Homo sapiens: one gene and its partner. The protein of the gene in region 2 binds, or shares a complex with, the protein of the main gene of each other region. Each region holds a gene or a part of one and is shown on either strand. Other genes may lie near its edges. A codon is read from its position in the direction of its gene.

Region 1 (9,795 bases), on a different chromosome or scaffold from region 2:
GAGAATAGTGTGAACCTTGGAAGGCAGAGCTTGTAGTGAGCTGAGATCGCACCACTGTACTCCAGCCTGGGCGACAGAGCGAGACTTCATCTCAAAAAAAAAAGTCCTTCTTAGATGTTTTTAGTTGTTTGTTTATTTTTCGAGATGGAGTTTTGCTCTTGTTGCCCAGGCTGAAGTGCAATGGCACGATCTGGGCCCATTGCAACCTCTGCCTCCCAGGTTCAAGCGATTCTCCTGCCTCAGCCTCCTGAGTAGCTGGGATTACAGGCAGCCACCACCATGCCCAGCTCATTTTTGTATTTTTAGTAGAGATGGGGTTTCACCACGTTGGCCAGGCTGGTCTCAAACTCCTGACCTCAGGTGATCCGCCCGCCTCAGCCTCTCAAAGTGCTGGGATTGCAGGCATGAGCCACTGCGCCCAGCCTGTTTGTTTGTTTTCAGATAGGGTCACCCTGTCAGCCAGGCTGGAATGCAATGGTGTGATTGTGATCACAGCTCACTGCTGCCTCAACCTGAGGGCTCAAGTGATCCTCCCACTTCAGCCTCCTTAGTAACTGGGACCACAGGGGTGAGCCACCATGCCTGGCTAATTTGTTAATTTTTGTAGAGATGGGGTCTCCCTATGTTGCCGAGGCTGGTCTCAAACTACTGGGCTTAAGTGATCCTCCTGCCTTAGCTTCCCAGAGCGCTGGGATTAAAGGCATGAGCTGCTGTGCCTGGTCAATCCTTTTTACATGTTTGAGGAAAAATAAATGTCCTGTTTTCAGGCTAAGATCAAGTAATAATCCTCATGTGTTAGGAAGCATGTGACATGGATTTTTGCAGCAGAGGGTTAGAAAGGAACTTTCTTTATATACTTGGCCCCCTGCATTTCAGGGCTCCACCGCCATCTGTCTGTCTGAGTGTAAAGTGGACCTTATTGGCATCTGGGCTGCCAAACTGCTTTTTTTCCTTTGCTTTGCCCAGCCTTCTCTTGAAGGCTAAATTCTTGAAAAATTATATTCTTTGTGTTCCTATAGTAAATATTAAGCTTTATATCAACACATATGGCAGGATCTGAGGCTCTTTACTCACCTCTGGTCCATTTCTCTAGTCTTTTCTCTGTAGTCTTTTTGTTTTCCTGTCCTCCATCTCCTAATTTATTAGTTTTATTATTATATTTTATATTATTTTTTTGAGACAGAGTTTTGCTCTTGTTGCCCAGGCTGGAGTGCAATGGCGCGATCTTGGCTCACTGCAATCCCTGCCTCATGGGTTCAAGTGATTTGTCTGCCACAGCCTCCTGAGTAGCTGAAATTACAGGCACGCACCACCATACCTGGCTAATTTTTGTATTTTTAGTAGAAACGGGGTTTCACCATGTTAGCCAGGCTGATATTGAATTCCTGACCTCAATTGATCCGACTGCCTCGGCCTCCGGAAGTGCTGGGATTACAGGTGAGCCACAGTGCCTGGCAGTTTGTTTTATTTTGGTTGAACAGTTACAAGTCTTGGTTTGTTTTCCTGCAGCAACAGGTTTATCTTGATATGATACAGCGTTATTTAAATTCCTTTTCATTTTCCTGCCTTTGTCTTCACATGCTAGTTTTTTTCAGTTGTTTCTTTTTTCTTCTTCCTTTTCTTTTTTTTTTTTTTTGAGAGATAGTCTTGCTGTGTTGTCCAGGTTGCAGTACAGTGGTGCGATCTGGGCTCACTGCAACCTCTGCCTCCTGGGTTCAAGTGATTCTCTCACCTCAGCCTCCGGAGTAGCTGGGATTACAGGTGCCCACCACCACGCCTGGCTAATTTTTGTATTTTTAGTAGAGACAGCGTTTCACCATGTTGGCCAGGCTGGTCTTGAACTCCTGACCTCAATTGATCTGCCTGCCTTGGTCTCCCAAAGTGCTGATTACAGGTGTGATCCACCGTGCCTAGCCTGTTTAGTTGTTTCTAAGAAGGGAGATATTGGTTTTGATTGACATAGTTCATCCACTTATTTACCAAACACTTGCGAAGTGCCTACTATATGCTGCCTCCGAATAGGCAGGTTCGTCCACAATAGCACAAGGCTCCTGCCACTTGTCTTCAAGGACAAAGAGACATCCAGACAAACAAATGTAATAAACAAATGGGACATGATTGTAGCAGAGGCAGATGCATGGTGGAGGGAAAGTAATTTTGTCTGGGGAGTTGAGAAAAGCTGTCACTTGAGCTAGATCTTGAATGAATAGGAACTCATGAGGTTGAGTGGACAAACAGGAAGGGCCAACAGCAGAGGTATGGCATGTACAAGATGCAGAGCTCTGCCTGAAAAAGCCTGGTGTGTTGTGAGTCTGGCAGGTGTTTGAAGGCTGATGTGGCTGGAGGCTAGTGCCTGTGAAGCAGGTGGTGGCTGATAAGATTGGAGAGGCAAGCTGTTATCCTCTTTATGCATGCAGAAGGAATTGACTTCAGGCTGGGCACAGTGGCTCATGCCTGTAATCCCAGCACTTTGGGAGGCTGAGGCGGGCAGATCACCTGAAGTTAGGAGTTCAAGACCAGCCTGGCCAACATGGTGAAACCCTGTCTCTCCTAAAAATACAAAATTAGCCGGGTGTGGCGGTGCACGCCTCCTATAATCTCAACTACTGGGGAGGCTCAGGAAGAAGAATCGCTTGAACCTGAGAGGCACAGGTTGCAGTGAGCTGAGATCGCGCCACTGCACTCCATGCTGGGTGACAGTGTGAGACCCTGTCTCAAAAAAAAAAAAACAAAAAACAAAAGGAATTGACTTCAGCCATTTGGAGCCATGAGGATCTGTGAGTGAGATACTGTGTCATGTTGGACCATCTCAAAGACAGCTTCTGACCCCACAGTTCTCAACCTTGTTCTTACTTATTTTTAGAGACAGGGTCTCGCTCTGTCTCCTAGGCTGGTATGCAGTGGTGCCACCATGGCTCACTGCAGCCTCACAAACTCCTGGACTCAAGTGATCCTCCTGCTTTTGCTTCCCTTGAGTGTTGGCATCTCATGGGACTCCAGGGGCACATCACCAATTACAGATGATAATTTTTTTTTTTTTTGAGACGGAGTCTTGCTCTGTATCCCAGGCTGGAGTGCAGTGGCGCGATTTTGGCTCACTGCAAGCTCCGCCTCCCAGGTTCACGTCATTCTCCTGCCTCAGCCTCCTAAGTAGCTGGGACTACAGGCACCCGCCACCACGCCTGGCTGATTTTTTTTTTTTTTTTTTGCATTTTTAGTAGAGACGGGGTTTCACTGTGTTAGCCAGGATGGTCTCGGTCTCCTGACCTCTTGATCCACCTGCCTCGGCCTCCCAAAGTGCTGGTATTACAGGTGTGAGACACCACGCCTGGCCTTTTTTTTTCTTTTTTGAGACAGAGTCTCACTCTGTCACCCAGGCTGGAGTGCAGCCGCGCAATCTTGGCTCACTGCAACCTCTGCCTCTCGGGTTCAAGCGATTCTCATGCCTCACCCCTCCAAGTCTGGGACTACAGGCGTGTGCTACTATGTCCAGTTAATTTTTGTATTTTTAGTAGAGATGGGGTTTCACCATGTTGGCCAGGCTGGTCACGAACTCCTGACCTCAAGTTATCCGCCACCCTCAGCCTCCCAAAGTGCTGGGATTACAGGTGTCAGCCACCACACCTGGCCTGTTAGTTTTTTTGAGGCAGAGTCTTGCTCTATCACCCAGACTGGAGTGCAGTGGCCCATTCTTGGCTCACTGCAACCTCTACCTCCTGGGTTCAAGCGATTCTCATGCCACAGCATGAGAAGTGGGATTACAGGGATTAGTAGGTGGGATTACAGGTGTGAGCCACCACACCCAGCCAGGCCCAGATAATTTTAAAATTTATTTTTTTATTTATTTAGAAATGGAGTCTCACTATGTTGCCCCGTCTGGTCTTAAACTCCTGGCCTCAAGGAATCCTCCCTCCTTGGCCTCCTAAAGGGCTAGGTGACAGGCATGAGTCACACTGCGCCCAGCCTTGAGCTTTTGTGCTCGAGATATAGTCCATTCAGAACCTCTGGTTGGCACTTCTTATCTGGCACATGCAGGGCACCTTGGATCTCTTATTATCTTTGAGCACTGGTCTGAACCCACTTGCTTGCCTTCTCCCAGGGGCTGCCCCGTGCACCCCTTGTTCCTAGGGTGGGGATGGGGTTGGATGCCTGGGGTTGCAGAGGGGACTAGCAGAGGGTGACCCTTTTCTCTATGCTATTACTTCAGATCTTGGCTTTTGCTTTCTTCCAAATACACAGCAATCTTGGCTTCCAGCCTAGGTGGGAAAGGGAGAAAGAACCGATTTCCTCCAGCTCCTCTCTGAAAGTAGCCCAACTGGCACTGTTTAGGAACAAGGAGTTCCTGAGAGTGTTGGCACCCCACGGTGTTGATGTCCGGTAGTTCCCTGCTGTGAACCCTGTCTCTGCCCCACTTCAATCCAAGGACCCTGTGGAGGGAATTCTAGGCTTCTTCAAAGCCTCTGCAGTACCAGCTGCCTCCAAGGCCTAACATAGTGAAGTGATAGGGAGACAGGACCTTGGGGGAGTTTGGGGATAACTGTGGGAGTTCCTGCAAGGTGGGTAAGAGTCTGGCCATGGCATCTTCTGGTCTATTCCACAAAAAAGGTGGATGCCTCTGAGACCTAGCTCTGTTATGTTCATTACAGCCCTATCAGTCTCTTCTGGATGTCTGATTCCTAGCTGCCAAACATCCAGGTGCTAGCAGCTGGGGGTGGGGTAGGATAAGAAGGGGGGTGTCTACCTCAACCTTCCTGCCCAAACCATTCATTTTAAAGTACTGTGAAGAAGGCTGGATTAGTGTTAAATTCAATAAAGTTAACAAAGCAAAGTATTGTAGTGAGTACACAATAAATAGTTGCTGCATGAGGAATTTCTTGAAATGAATTCAAGATGAGTCTTGAAAAACGAGTGGGAGTAAGCCGTGCACGGAAGCAGAGGTCTAGCAGAGGTCTAGCGCCAAGTCCCAGAGGCCTGAGAGGGCAAGCCTTGGTGGGGGAAAAGGCAGAAGTTGTGACTGGCTGCCTCTGAGAGTGCAAGTAGCCATGCAAAGTTGGGAAAACCAGACGGCGGCCGGAGCCGTGAACCAGGGGCAAATGGAGGATGGTGTTGGGGTAGTCACTAGCCTGCCGGAATGGAAGAAGAGGGGCGTTTGGGGGCGGTAAGGCCTAAAGGACACTGGAGGGGCCTCGGGATTTGGGGCAGGATCACAGGCCTAGTCCACTTAAAGGTGGCTCCGTGCCAGGCCTTCCCAGAATCAGGTTGAAAAGAACTTTAGGGTTAGACAGGTTGGAGATGAGAAATTGGACCATGCAGGAAGTACTGTCGGAGGCGTGTTCCTGACTTTACTACCCTGAGCCGCCCACGGCTGGGGCAGTCCCCGAGGTTCCACCTTAAGGGGCGGGCCGGGGCGGGGCTCCGCTGCCCCTTCCCAGAGGCCGCGCCTGCTGCTGAGCAGATGCAGTAGCCGAAACTGCGCGGAGGCACAGAGGCCGGGGAGAGCGTTCTGGGTCCGAGGGTCCAGGTAGGGGTTGAGCCACCATCTGACCGCAAGCTGCGTCGTGTCGCCGGTTCTGCAGGCACCATGAGCCAGGACACCGAGGTGGATATGAAGGAGGTGGAGCTGAATGAGTTAGAGCCCGAGAAGCAGCCGATGAACGCGGCGTCTGGGGCGGCCATGTCCCTGGCGGGAGCCGAGAAGAATGGTCTGGTGAAGATCAAGGTGGCGGAAGACGAGGCGGAGGCGGCAGCCGCGGCTAAGTTCACGGGCCTGTCCAAGGAGGAGCTGCTGAAGGTGGCAGGCAGCCCCGGCTGGGTACGCACCCGCTGGGCACTGCTGCTGCTCTTCTGGCTCGGCTGGCTCGGCATGCTTGCTGGTGCCGTGGTCATAATCGTGCGAGCGCCGCGTTGTCGCGAGCTACCGGCGCAGAAGTGGTGGCACACGGGCGCCCTCTACCGCATCGGCGACCTTCAGGCCTTCCAGGGCCACGGCGCGGGCAACCTGGCGGGTGAGTGCAGCGCGCCCCCGTCCCGGGTACCTCCGGTTGAATCTGGTGGCTTGCACCGACCCCCTCCCCTGTCCCCAGACGGATCTAGATGGTTCTTCCCTCCATCCCGTACCGACGACTGTTCCCCCTTCCCCCACCCCCTCCCCGGCACATTGTCCTTCCCTCCTTTCTTTGAAGAAAGCCGACCCGCCCCTCACTCCGTCACGAGGGTGGGTGACTCAGCGTCCTCCTTCCCCGCGGCGCCAGAAGCCAGTTGCAACCGGTTTCTGAAGTAATGTGCAGGACTCCTTACATCAGCTCCTCTGAGTCTCGTGATTCAGCCTTGCCTCCCTCTCTCCCCCTTTGCCCCCTCCCCGTCCCACCCTTAGGCGCTGGGAGAAGGGAGGGTGGGGAGGTCAGGGGCCTCTCAGAGGGGCCTCACTTGTTAACCCAGCCCCCATTTCAGGTCTGAAGGGGCGTCTCGATTACCTGAGCTCTCTGAAGGTGAAGGGCCTTGTGCTGGGTCCAATTCACAAGAACCAGAAGGATGATGTCGCTCAGACTGACTTGCTGCAGATCGACCCCAATTTTGGCTCCAAGGAAGATTTTGACAGTCTCTTGCAATCGGCTAAAAAAAAGAGTGGGTATCCTGGGGTTCCCAAGGAAACAGCTAGAAAGGACTTGGCCAGAGGAAAAGTAGGCTAGAACTTTTGTCTGGTTTCCTGCTAACTGGCTCTGAGTTTTCCTAGGGCAGGTAGAGGGGAGATTTGTTAGTCTTCAGCCTAAAATGGATTTGTCCAGTCGTCTGGGGGCTTTCTACTTGGCTGTGGAATCTTGAGCAGGTCATTTAACTTCTGGGCTTCAGTGCCCTTATTTGCAAAATATAGATATTTACTAAACCAGTGGTTTTAAACTTGTAAAACAGTAGGTTTTTTTGGGGGGGGGGAATCCCAAATATTGTTTTACGACTCGATATAGACACATGTTTAAAAAGGTTCACTTTGGGAGTGGGGAACACAGGGGCCACTTCTCTGCACTATAAACTTTCTGCCTTCCAATATCTTTTTTTTTTTTTGAGATGGAGTCTCACTCTTGTCACCCAGGCTGCAGTGCAGTGGAACGATCTCAGCTTACTGCAGCCTCCTCCCCCAGGGTTCAAGCGATTCTCGTGCCTCAGCCTCCTGAGTAGCTGGTACTACAGCCGTGTGCCACCACACCCAGATAATTTTTTTATTTTTAGTAGAGACAATTTTCAACATGTTGACCGGTCTGGTTTTGAACTCGCCTGGCCTGCCTTCCCATATCTTAAGGCCCTTCCTTGCTCACATCTGTTTCAATGGAATGAATTTTGCCCGGGTTCAAATTCAAGCTTTTGTACCAAGTAATACATAGGAAACACTCAGTGACTTGCATTTGTGATTTCCTTATTTTCCCTTAACTCATAGACTGTCTCATGATTGCGTCTTCCTCCGTTGTTTTAGGCATCCGTGTCATTCTGGACCTTACTCCCAACTACCGGGGTGAGAACTCGTGGTTCTCCACTCAGGTTGACACTGTGGCCACCAAGGTGAAGGTGAGTGTTGGAGCTGATGGCTGGTGGAAGTCAGATGCTGGGGCTGGGACAGTCCTTTCACAGCAAGCCCTGTAGACCCAGCCTGACTCCAGCTGAGGGTCCCTTTGCTCCTTAGGACCAAGGAGGAATGCCTCCTCCTATAGCCAAAGGATAGGCCAATAGCACACCTGTTTTTCTTGTTCCTTTTCTGACCTCTTATTTTTCTTATTTCCTTGACTCTGAGGATGAGACAGTGCCAGGAAGGGACCTTCTCAGAAGTCAGTCTGGAAGTTTGATTTTTCTTTCTTTTGGGAGAGGAAGCCCTTTCTCTGTGAGAATCCTGTCCTGACTGGTTTCCCAGTTCTTGTTTGATGTGTTTGGAATAGAGCCCAGTCTGAAATTATAAGCACTGGGGTACTCCTATGTGTCTGGGACTCTATGCCAAGTATTTTATAGATGTTTTCTAATTCTCTGTATAACCATACAAGGTATATAATTTGCCATAGGTTCAAATGTGTACCCAGCAGGCTAGGAGTAGGGCTTTGAATGTCACCTAGCTCCTGATGTCTGGGTCCTAGGACACTGACCTGTTCAGAATGGGTAGAACAAAAATGGAAGCAGATACTGACACTGCTGGTAGCTGTGATTCTAAGATAGAATTCTGGACTCCCAGCATTTGGGTAGGACCCCGGGATCATCCAGTTTAGGCCTTGCCAGTTACTAGGGGACCCTTTAAAAGTTGCTGATGAGGGAATGTTTTTGGATGGTTTGGCATGAGGGGCGGTACCCTCAGATGGAAATGGAGACCAGAGGAGAGAGTACATGGCCCAGAGAAAGGGAAGAAAAGGAGAATGGGGGTGAAGTTCCACAGTGTGTGCAGGACTGCCAGGATTCCATTCAGCAGCACTGGCCTCTTTTCAAATCTAAACTGCCCTGGGGCTATGCTTTGAATTTCAATCTTTCATCCTTGGCCTTGCTCTGAGCAGTTATTGTACTCACACCTTCCCCAGGCCTCAGGAAACTGGGAGAGGGGGGATCTTGACTGACATTTTAGATCCTGTCTGCTGCTCACTGATTATGACTGTGGACGCGTCTCCCTGCTTCTCTGGGTCTGTTTCTTCATCTCTAAAATAGGTATGCTAACATTCCAATGCTAAGTGTTAAACGAAGTTATGTTTATGGACATACCTTTTCTCTGGGGCCTTTTCTGTGGCTTTCAAAGTTGAAGCTGTGTGATTTGCCAGAGGCAAGAATGAGAAGTAAAATGCTGTAGCACTAAGAAAATGAGTGGAAGGGTAGAGCTGGAGGGGTCCAAAGGCTAAGCCTTTGTAGTGCAGGTGGGGAAGACCCAGGCAAGGCACAGGACTCTCCCCAGCTCCCGGGGAAGTGTGTGGTGGGTGAGGTTTAGTGTGGGCTGGAATTTTCTGAGCCTTTTCCTGAGAACTGATGTCTGTCCTTTATTCTTCTGCCCCCTATAGGATGCTCTGGAGTTTTGGCTGCAAGCTGGCGTGGATGGGTTCCAGGTTCGGGACATAGAGAATCTGAAGGTGAGTTCCCTTTCCACATTAGGGACAAAGCTTGGGCGAGAACAGAGGGACTCAGCTAGAGCCTCATAATATTCTCTGGTCCTTGATTCTGCTTTTTTCTTTCTAGGATGCATCCTCATTCTTGGCTGAGTGGCAAAATATCACCAAGGGCTTCAGTGAAGACAGGTGGGTGCAGGAGCCATTCTGCTGACTCAGCTCCAATGTGGGAACCCCTCAGTGGAGTGCTAGGCCTAAGAAGGGGGGATTCCTAGTCTAGAGCATTTTCTTTACCTTTATTCTTTCTTTAGCTTTTTTTTTTTTTTTTTTTTTTTTTTTTTTTTTTTGAGATGGAGTTCCGCTCTTTTTGCCCAGGCTGGGGTGCGATGGCGTGATCTTGGCTCACTGCAACCTCTGCCTCCTGGGTTCAAGCGATTCTCCTGCCTCAGCATCCCAAGTAGCTGGGATTACAGACGCGGGCCACCACACCTGGCTAATTTTGTATTTTTAGTAGAGACGGGGTTTCTCCATGTTGGTCAAGCCAGTCTCGAACTCCTGACCTCAAGTGATCCACCCGCCTCAGCCTCCCAAAGTGTTGGGATTACAGGCGTGAGCCACTGCGCCTGGCCCCATTCTTTCTTGTGCTAACCTTGAACTCCTCCCTCCCCTCTGCAGGCTCTTGATTGCGGGGACTAACTCCTCCGACCTTCAGCAGATCCTGAGCCTACTCGAATCC
Region 2 (8,930 bases):
GCAGTTATAGCCACCGGAGAAGCTTCACTGTACCTCTCGCTGGCTGCCTTGTTACTTGTTAAACTGTGCCTTCAGGGTAATTCAGGGGCATCTCAGCTGGAATTTAGTGTACCAAATAATGAGTACAATGTCTGGATGCTCAGATAAAGCAGGGTTTTAAGAACCCTTTGAAAAAAATTCATCTTTTTTTTTCTTAAAAAGTTTCATTGAGGTGTAATTGACATACAATAAACCACACATGCTTTAAATGTACAGTTTGATAAAGTGTGATGTATGTATTCACCTGTGAAACTATCACCACAATCAAGTACCCAGCAATGGGATTGCTGGATCATATGATAGATTTATTTTTAGTTTTTTGAGACACTTCCATACTGTTTTCTATAGTGGCTATACTAATTTACATTCCCACCAGCAGTGTACTAGCATCTTAATGAGAATTTTTGTTAAGCTATCTGAGAGGAAAGCAGGGTGAGATGATCAATTCATAATATCTGTTTAATTTTGTCTTCCATTTGCCTAAGAAAACTTTACAAAGTATTTTTTAAAATCCCAAATACCCAGTTTTTTTAATATTTCAATAGACATTAGGTACTTATACTCTTTATGAAAGTAACAAAACCTCTTTCTTATTTTCAAACATATAGTTAGTTGTTCCAAAAATAAGAATGCCTCTCTCTCTCTCCTTCCTTCCTCCCTGCCTGCCTCTTTTCGTTTTTATCCTTCTCCTTTCCTCTCCTTTCTTTTTCTCTCTTTCTCTCTATATAACAGTTCTTTTCTACTGTGGAAAGAACTTTCATAAATACAGAGTGCTTTGGGTTTTAGGAGCCCTATTTGAAAGAAAACACTGCCCTTTTGTTGCTGGTGGCCACATGAGACAATTTTTTCACTTTTACACCAACGTTGAACCTCCTTAATTAAAACAATAATCATTATTGTGTAATGACTCATCACACAGTCATTTGCATAGAAAAGGAAAGGAATCACTGGATGATGGAGCAGGGAGCAGAGTTACACTAACTTATTTTCCATATATAAGTGCCTTATATTGGGGAGAGATAAATAATTTTATTTTTGTGATTCCTCTGATAAAATAATGCACTTTGTCATTGACAACAGACCTGTCTATCCCTTCATGTTTTCAGCTTCCAACACAGATGAAATAACCCCCCTTAGATGCCCCTGTAGCTTATTCAGGGGTTTGGCCTTTTTGATCATTCTCATAATTACTCCTTTGAAATATTTCTTCGTTAGTAACCCTGTATTTCACTTTGTATGAGATCTTCTGATCCCTTATTTTTCCCATCTTGGAGTTTTTTCCAAAAACAAAATGTATTTTATTGCTTCATTTACTTTTGAAAATTTTTTCATCTTTATTGAGGTATATACAACAAATAAAATTGTAATTTTAGGGTGTACAATGTAATGATTTTATTTATATATATATATATATATATATATATATATATAGTGAAATTATTGTCTCAATCAAGTGAGTTAACACCTCTGTCACATCATTTAGTTACCCCTCTTTTTTTTGTTTTGTTCTGTGGTGAGAACATTTAAGTATATTTCAAGTATACAATTCAGTATTTGAAACTATAGCCACCAAAATGCTATATGTTCATCATAAAATTTATTAAACTATTCCTAAAAATAAATTTAAAAAATTGAAAATTATTTAGTGTTCTATCACTTATAAACACCTGCTGTTGATGTTTTGGTAAATATGTTTCCAGATCTATTTCTCCTTCCTTCCTTCCTTCCTTCCTTCCTTCCTTCCTTCCTTCCTTTCATCCTTCCTTCCTTCTTTTCCTTCTTCCTTCCTTCCTTCTTTCCATCCATTCCTCTAACTTGCTGTATTGATCAGTAATATATCATGAATATCCTTTCTTGTAATAAATATTTAACTGCCTCATAATTTTAAGTGGCTGCATATAAACTATTAAAATGATATACCTTAATTAGCCTTCCTTTAGGAGGTTTAGGCTATTTCCATTTTTTTGCCTTTAAAGATTATGTGTTGCTGACATTTGCATTGATTGTTAAATTCTGAAGTGAGCTAGTAACTATATCAGGCAGTGAAAACTGTGAGGCGGACTCATTACTATATATAAGGAAAACTTCCAATTTCAATTTGAATAATAAGAATTCTGTAGGAGTTTTGTTTCATTCTTTGAGAAATATCTTTACATTTTAAATATTTGTTTAGGGAGAATATACCTTTATAAATATAAAGGTTATAGTTAATAACTGTAAATGTCAGGAATAAAGTAGTGTTTTGGGTTGTTCCAAGCATAAGGTTGTGGAAAGAGTATAAAGTTGAAAACCACTGTCTAGAATAACCTCAGTCATCCCAGCAGAGTAGGGGAGAAAGGTCTTAGAGCATCACCATTTCCCTTGTGCCTTAGATTTTCTAACTGAGGATCCAGTTCATTCATTCAACAAAAATGTATTAAGTTACCTGGGCCAGGCATGGAGCTGGATACCAGCGATACAGCGATGAATAACCCTTGCTCTATCCTTGAGGTTTTCATGGTCCACAAGGTGTCGAAGGTGGATAGTTATTGCTGCTTGGGAAATTGTAGACAGCATCAGTAAGAATGAAAAATTCTTCTGGCTTTGAACCCAATGTGCATTCTAGCCTGGTTAGTCTTTTGCACTCATCACTTAGAATATTGTGCTGAAGCCCTGAAACATATCTTGAAAAACTATACTTGTACGGTGGGTTGAAAGTCGCCCCTTGACATGCTAATTAGAAAGAAGACAACCAAAAGAAAAGTGCTGCCTGAGGCTAGTCCTGAGAGTGAAAAATAAGATCTGAGCCAACTTCTACACTTCTTGCTCCTTCTTGAGTGTGATCCACATTGGCAGGCATACCATCATAGAGACAGGAAAGAGTTGTCACATCAAGCTAGACAGTGAAATTCAGCCATCTGATTGGATGCTGGGTTTGGTTAGAAGACATTTTTATGTGATTGTTAGAGTACTACAATATATGTCCACTCTTACATACAAAGAACAAGAGAAGAATTCTTATTGTCCAGAGGCTTTATCCATGTTTCTCAAACTTCAATGTGCATAAAAACCAGCTGGAGAACCTGTTGAAATGTAGATTTGTATTCATTAGGCCTGGGGCAGAGCCTGAGATTCTGCATTTCTAAAACACTTCTAAGTAATGTCAACACTGCTGCCTCACAGATTGCCCTTTGAGTAACAAGGACCTAAAATGTCTTTGTGCCAGTGAGAATTCACCTTTTGTAACTTCCTCTATTTGTTTGCAGCTGTAGTGATGGTCCTAAATAGCATGAGTGTCAGCTGGAGCGCCCGGATCCAGATTTTCTTAACCTTTTGCAAGCTCACAGCAATTCTGATAATTATAGTCCCTGGAGTTATGCAGCTAATTAAAGGTATGGACTGAAAAGCAAATGCTTTTTAAAATACGTATCTGCTTTTGGTCTTTTTTAACACTAACTTTTGCTTGTACTAACAGAATCCTTAATTAGTCTCTGCCTGTGGAACTTAAACTCTATATTGTCATCTAATTGATTTGAAAGGCTGCTACATTGTGAGTGAGTTGGTTTTTACAGTTGAATGGCAGAAAGAGGATTAAGAATGGGCCATGCAACAAAATAAGGCATCAGTGAATTTTCTAGGTTTAATGGTTTGGAGTGAAAACTCGAAGTGGAAAAAAAAAAAACCTGCCACTTAGTTTTAATTAAAGATAAATATGTCTTTTTTTTACTTTAAAATTGTCCAATAATAGTAATAAAAATTAAAGAGAAAAAGGTATCTGGAAAGTGATAAAAGATGATCAATAATTCTTTGACTTTCTGGTTATTATTCCTTTTAAATTGAGAGTGGTATCCTCAACAGAGGAGTCAATACGGGAACAGCATTCCTAAACACCAAAATTATATCACAATAAAATAGTTGTAAAAACTTAATTTTTATTGTTACATTATTTTTAATATAAAATTCGCATTTCTGCGATTACTTGCTTTATAGAGTTTAACATTTAATTTAAAAAAAGAAATTGAGAGGTGACATTTAGAGTTTTTGTTTTAGGAAAGAAGGCACATGCAGTTGCTTGGATTCAGTGGAAATTGTTGGAGGACAGAGATTCACATGTGGTATTTAATTAGCAACAGGAATATAGCAGGAAATAAAGTGAGAAGAAATTGTAAAGGAATGACATAACTTGGGCATGTTAAGTATTTAATGTTTACATTGATATTGTCTGTTCCAAGAAAGGGAATCTAGAGAAATTTAATGACGTTGCAGAAGAATTACACAAGGCAAAAGGAAATGCCAGCGTTTGGTAAAATCATCACTGTTGGTAGAAGCATTAAATAATGACAAACACTGAAGGATCAGCCACTCTGGAGCTGGGAAAGGGAGCTGCTGTTGCCCATTTAATAAGCCTAGTGGGAGATTTTAGAGCCCTGCTGGCGGAAATGCTTTTATGAAATCCAGCAACAGCAGCCAATGCAGAATAAACACAATGAAGATTTTGACCGTTAGAGCTTGCACTGAAGAGAAGACAGGAGCTTGCTCTTCTAATACACCTTGGCCTCCACAGAGCTAGCCTGCTCATTTCTATCTTATTCGTTAGGAATGTAGGCACAATAATCTGTTTTGTTAGTGCTTTATTTTTCTGAGCTAACTCTTCAGTCTTCTGTAAGGAGTTTCTTCAGTATTTGAAAAGTGCAGAATCTCTGGGTCATTGGCTGTTCTTTAATACTAGTTTAGATTCCAAAAGATTATATGCTATCCCTTGAAACTAAGATTTATTTTCTTCTTCTTTTTGGTGTAATGTAAGATACTATAGGTAGCATTATAGACTTTATTCAATTTTTACCAGGTATTTATATATGTATATGAGGAAGGGTTTGGTTGCCCAAATGTTGCTCTATTGCAAATTCCTTGAGAGCAGAGGTCATGATATATCTTGAGGTTTTTTTAGTGGCTAAAATACAGAGACACTTTAATCAATAATCATGATATCAATGCTTAATGTGACAGGCTTATTCAGAGATCTCACACAACAGAGAAATTCCCTGAGAATATTACCGCATTTAATGTAAATTTAACATTTTAGAGACCATTATTAGCAGGTATATTTGCTCGATTGCTGTAAAATTGTGATTTTCTTCATCTCTAACATGATCACACATTTTTCACATTAATCTGAAACTCTAGTAGGAGACTTTGTTAATACAGATTGTGCTTTTATTTCTATTCTAATCATATCCTGAAAGTAGTTGTATGTTATGTATTCACTTATGAGAGTTTGTTGAACTTTCCTTTGAATATTGCCTTTAATCTTCATGAGACCTCTGTTATATAGCCAAAATATTCCTGAATTCTAGAAACAAAATGCCTCTCTTTTGTAATATTCTCAAAATGGCACTTTTGAAGATCTTTGCTTGTGACCCAGTCTTTATAGAATTTGGTTTTTCTTATGGATTATTTGGTGCTGCACTCTAAGAAATATTGTGCCTTTATGCCAAAGAGACCACAGATTATGATAAAAGAATATTCAACAGATGCTTTTATCTGAATTCCACTATTTATATTTTTCTCCTGGAAGGACACAATGATGTTTTAGTAAAATGGGCATTTCTGAATTTATCATGTCATTTAAAAAGTGAGCTATGTTTGGGAATCATTTGAGAGAAAAATTGTTTAGTATATAATTCAACATTCTCCATTTTTGGTCTTCATACTCACACATATTATATTTATATATAAGTTATGCCTGGGCAATGAATGCAGGAAAAACTGAGATTTGACTTGGAAGAGAGAGTGTCTCATACACATCATCCACCCCCTGTCCCCCTTCTGTTTATTTACATGAAGTTTTATTTTAAAACAAAGTCTCACTTCCCATTTGGGTAATCTCATTTGCTATTTTCTTTGGGTAATAGAAACATTTTTTCTGCTTAAGCTTGAATATTGACTGACTAAAGTAAATCTGAATTTCTAACTTTTAAAACTATTCAAAAGATATAAAAGAAAAAGCTCCAATGTGATTCATAAAATAGAGAAAAAGGTGAAGTGTTCAATTCACATGCTGCTGCAAAATTTGTTGAAACCTATTTATTTTAGAGTTCATTATAATATCTTTTCAATATTTCTAGGAAAAAAAACATGTCATTCTCTAGGACAGGGTCACAGAGTGAGTGGACTTTCTCTGTAAAGGACAAGAGAGTAAATATTTTCAATTTTTCAAGCTAGCTGTATGGTCTCAACTCTGCTATTATAGGTTGAAATCAGCCATAGGCAATACTTCATGAATGGGTAATACTTCATGAATGGGCATTTTTAACTTATAGATAAAGAAAACTTTATCTATAAGAAAGGCTTGCAGCCAGACGCAGTGGCTCACACCTGTAATCCTAACACTTTGGGAGGCCGAGGCGGGCGGATCACAAGATCAGGAGTTCAAGACCAGCCTGGCCAACATGGTGAAACCCCATCTCTACTAAAAATATGAAAATTAGTTGGGCATGATGGCGCGCTCCTGTAATCCCAGCTACTCAGGAGGCTGAGGCTGGAGAATCACTTGAACCCAGGAGGCGGAGGTTGCAGTGAGCCAAGATTGTGCCACTGCACTCCAGCCTGGGCCACAGAGTGAGACTCCATCTTGAAAAAAATAAAAAAAGAAAGGCTTGCAGTTTGGGTTGACACACATGGTCTTCAGGATTTTCCAACTTCTCTTCTAGGAGGTAGGCATCTAATGAACAACATGGGATAAACAGAAAGCAGAAAGGTAAATTGTGTAGGAAAGGAGTCCTGGGATTTATTTCCATCTCCTCATTAAGGGTAGAACCTTGGATACCTCTCCGCATTTTCTTGCCAAGCAAAACATTATCTTTTTAAGAATTCTATCTTTTAAGAATTCTATCATATTCATAAAGATTATAATTTACAGAAAACCCTTTAGTCTTCTTTTATGGTCACAATAGAGGCATACTCAAACAGAGGATTATTTTTCAATGCCATTTTCATCTTTGTTATAAATTTATTAAAAGAGAAATATGAAATAGTGTTAATGATCAATATACTTTTGGGACCCCTTCTATAGAATGGGTACAGTATTGATAAAGATGGTAATCAACAGAGAGTAAGAAATCTAGACTTACAACAGTATGTTTCTCCGCACCCCCATGTTTCTGGTTAAGAGTGAATAAGAACCAATTCTTTGAAAAATCCTAAAATCAGTCTATTCTAATTACAGGTCAAACGCAGAACTTTAAAGACGCCTTTTCAGGAAGAGATTCAAGTATTACGCGGTTGCCACTGGCTTTTTATTATGGAATGTATGCATATGCTGGCTGGTAAGTTGATAGCTCCAGATCTGGTGGTTTGCGTAGTTCATTAATCCCATTATGCACTCAGATTAAGTGCCAAGCAAGGTGCCAGGCAAATGTGAATAGCCATAATCCAGTGTGATAGGCTTTACTTGAAATGAGAAATAAGGTATTATCCCCTCCACCAGGCCAATTACTTTGCACATGACAACTAAACATAACAGGTTTCCAGTCAAGGTGACTGCTAGATTTAGCCTGATGTCATAAAAAACAAACAAATGCTGGGTCTTAAGATCCAATAAAAATTACTTATAAGTATGTACCAGTAAGGACATAATAGTGCCGTAAGGTACTAAAGAATAATACTTCGCTTGTCAAAAGGCCTTTCAGCTAAAGCTCCAAGGGTGTTTACAAATAGTGATTAATTGATTTTTTTTTCCAGCTTCTCGTGAGAGAAGTAACTCAGATGTAGAAATAAGTATGACATTCCCAGAAGGTAAATGGTAATCTAAAGGCAGAGAAAGAGAAACCAAGATAATGCAGTCAACTCTTCTAGACAGTCTATTACATTTAAAAGGACCTTACATGTTCCTTAAAATGTCCCCAACATCTGAAAATTTAAAAAAGTGAAGATGATTAAAATCATGATGCCACAGATATATTTCCTTTGATGTATGTCCACCTGTGATACCTACCTTTCTAGTTAAGGCATTAAAACTTTGTATTTGTACCTTATTTGTTCAGATACTTGAAAAACAGTAATCATGTAATCATGGATAAGAGTGGGACTTTCTCTTCAGTAAATTTTATTGACCTTGTAAGATTTAGTTGAGATGATGGTTGCAAGAAAGCCTACAAGGTATTATTTAATTATCAAAATCATTGTAGTAAGATTAAATTTCATTGTTTTGGGATAAATCATGGCAATGTTTATTTTTTAATTATCTATAAATCTCATTGTTATACAGCTTTAGCTGTGAGAATGATCTATGAGCCTGGAAGTAATATTAGGAAACCACACTAGCTAAAAAATTATATGAATGCATTTCCAACACAAATATAATTCCTTTTGTTTTTTTAGTTTTTAAGATCTTACCTTCTAGCCGATGCATGGAATATGGATATATTTCAAAATGAATGGAGCGTTTACCCTATTAATCTCATTGAATTATGAAAATATGGTATTAGAGGATAATTAGGGGGTATGGGAACTTAAAATCTTAACATGGCCTTTGAGGCAAAATATGCTTGAAGATTGTTAGAAGATTATAGCTCTAAGGAAATCAGTGTAAAATATTTGTATATTCCCAGAATATTTTTATAACCATTATATGTAAGCATTAGTTTTGAATCACTCAGTATTTTTGAAGTCTTTTTGCTTTTGTCTGAAGCACAATGTGGTGCTAGACATCAAAAGAACTGAGCGTGATCACAGGGTTAAAGCAGAATCAACTGTTCTATGGCTATTCAGCCTGGATCAGAGCTCTGTGCCCTGGGGCTGAAGCCAAGCTACTGGGAGGGTCACTGGGAGACACCAGAGCAAAGCGGGGAGGTAGAGAAAGCTTTCAGCTACAGCCAAGTGTTGGGAGCCGGGCAATATGCAACCACGAGTGT

What was found.
Region 1: the proteins of SLC7A11 (region 2) and SLC3A2 are in contact, whole or in part, in a cryo-EM structure (PDB 7P9V), measured with the Homo sapiens proteins. Residues at the interface, in NP_055146.1 of Homo sapiens: Leu151, Phe154, Phe155, Ile156, Gln157, Cys158, Glu159, Pro161, Leu163, Ala164, Leu167, Ile168, Ala170, Val171, Thr174, Val175 (codon at 3,287), Val178 (codon at 3,296), Gln217 (codon at 7,246), Gln219 (codon at 7,252), Val360, His373, Thr487, Gln489, Ile490, Ile491, Glu493, Val494, Val495; in NP_002385.3 of Homo sapiens: Glu167, Leu170, Ala173, Trp178, Thr181, Arg182, Phe189, Trp190, Trp193, Met196, Leu197, Gly199, Ala200, Ile203, Ile204, Ala207, Arg209, Cys210, Glu212, Leu213, Lys299, Arg534, Gln559.

The regions. Positions count from the first base shown.
Region 1 is NC_000011.10:62,875,443-62,885,237, forward strand, and holds the start of SLC3A2 (amino acid transporter heavy chain SLC3A2), read left to right. Parts: upstream 1-5,453; 5' UTR 5,454-5,576; coding exon of another isoform or gene 5,577-5,581; coding exon 5,582-6,005; intron 6,006-6,256; exon of another isoform or gene 6,257-6,450; coding exon 6,451-6,624; intron 6,625-7,465; coding exon 7,466-7,557; intron 7,558-8,546; exon of another isoform or gene 8,547-8,670; intron 8,671-9,014; coding exon 9,015-9,083; intron 9,084-9,189; coding exon 9,190-9,248; intron 9,249-9,734; coding exon 9,735-9,795. UniProt on the Homo sapiens protein: Acts as a chaperone that facilitates biogenesis and trafficking of functional transporters heterodimers to the plasma membrane.
Region 2 is NC_000004.12:138,217,679-138,226,608, reverse strand, and holds part of SLC7A11 (cystine/glutamate transporter), read left to right. Parts: intron 1-3,284; coding exon 3,285-3,410; intron 3,411-7,243; coding exon 7,244-7,343; intron 7,344-8,930. UniProt on the Homo sapiens protein: Heterodimer with SLC3A2, that functions as an antiporter by mediating the exchange of extracellular anionic L-cystine and intracellular L-glutamate across the cellular plasma membrane.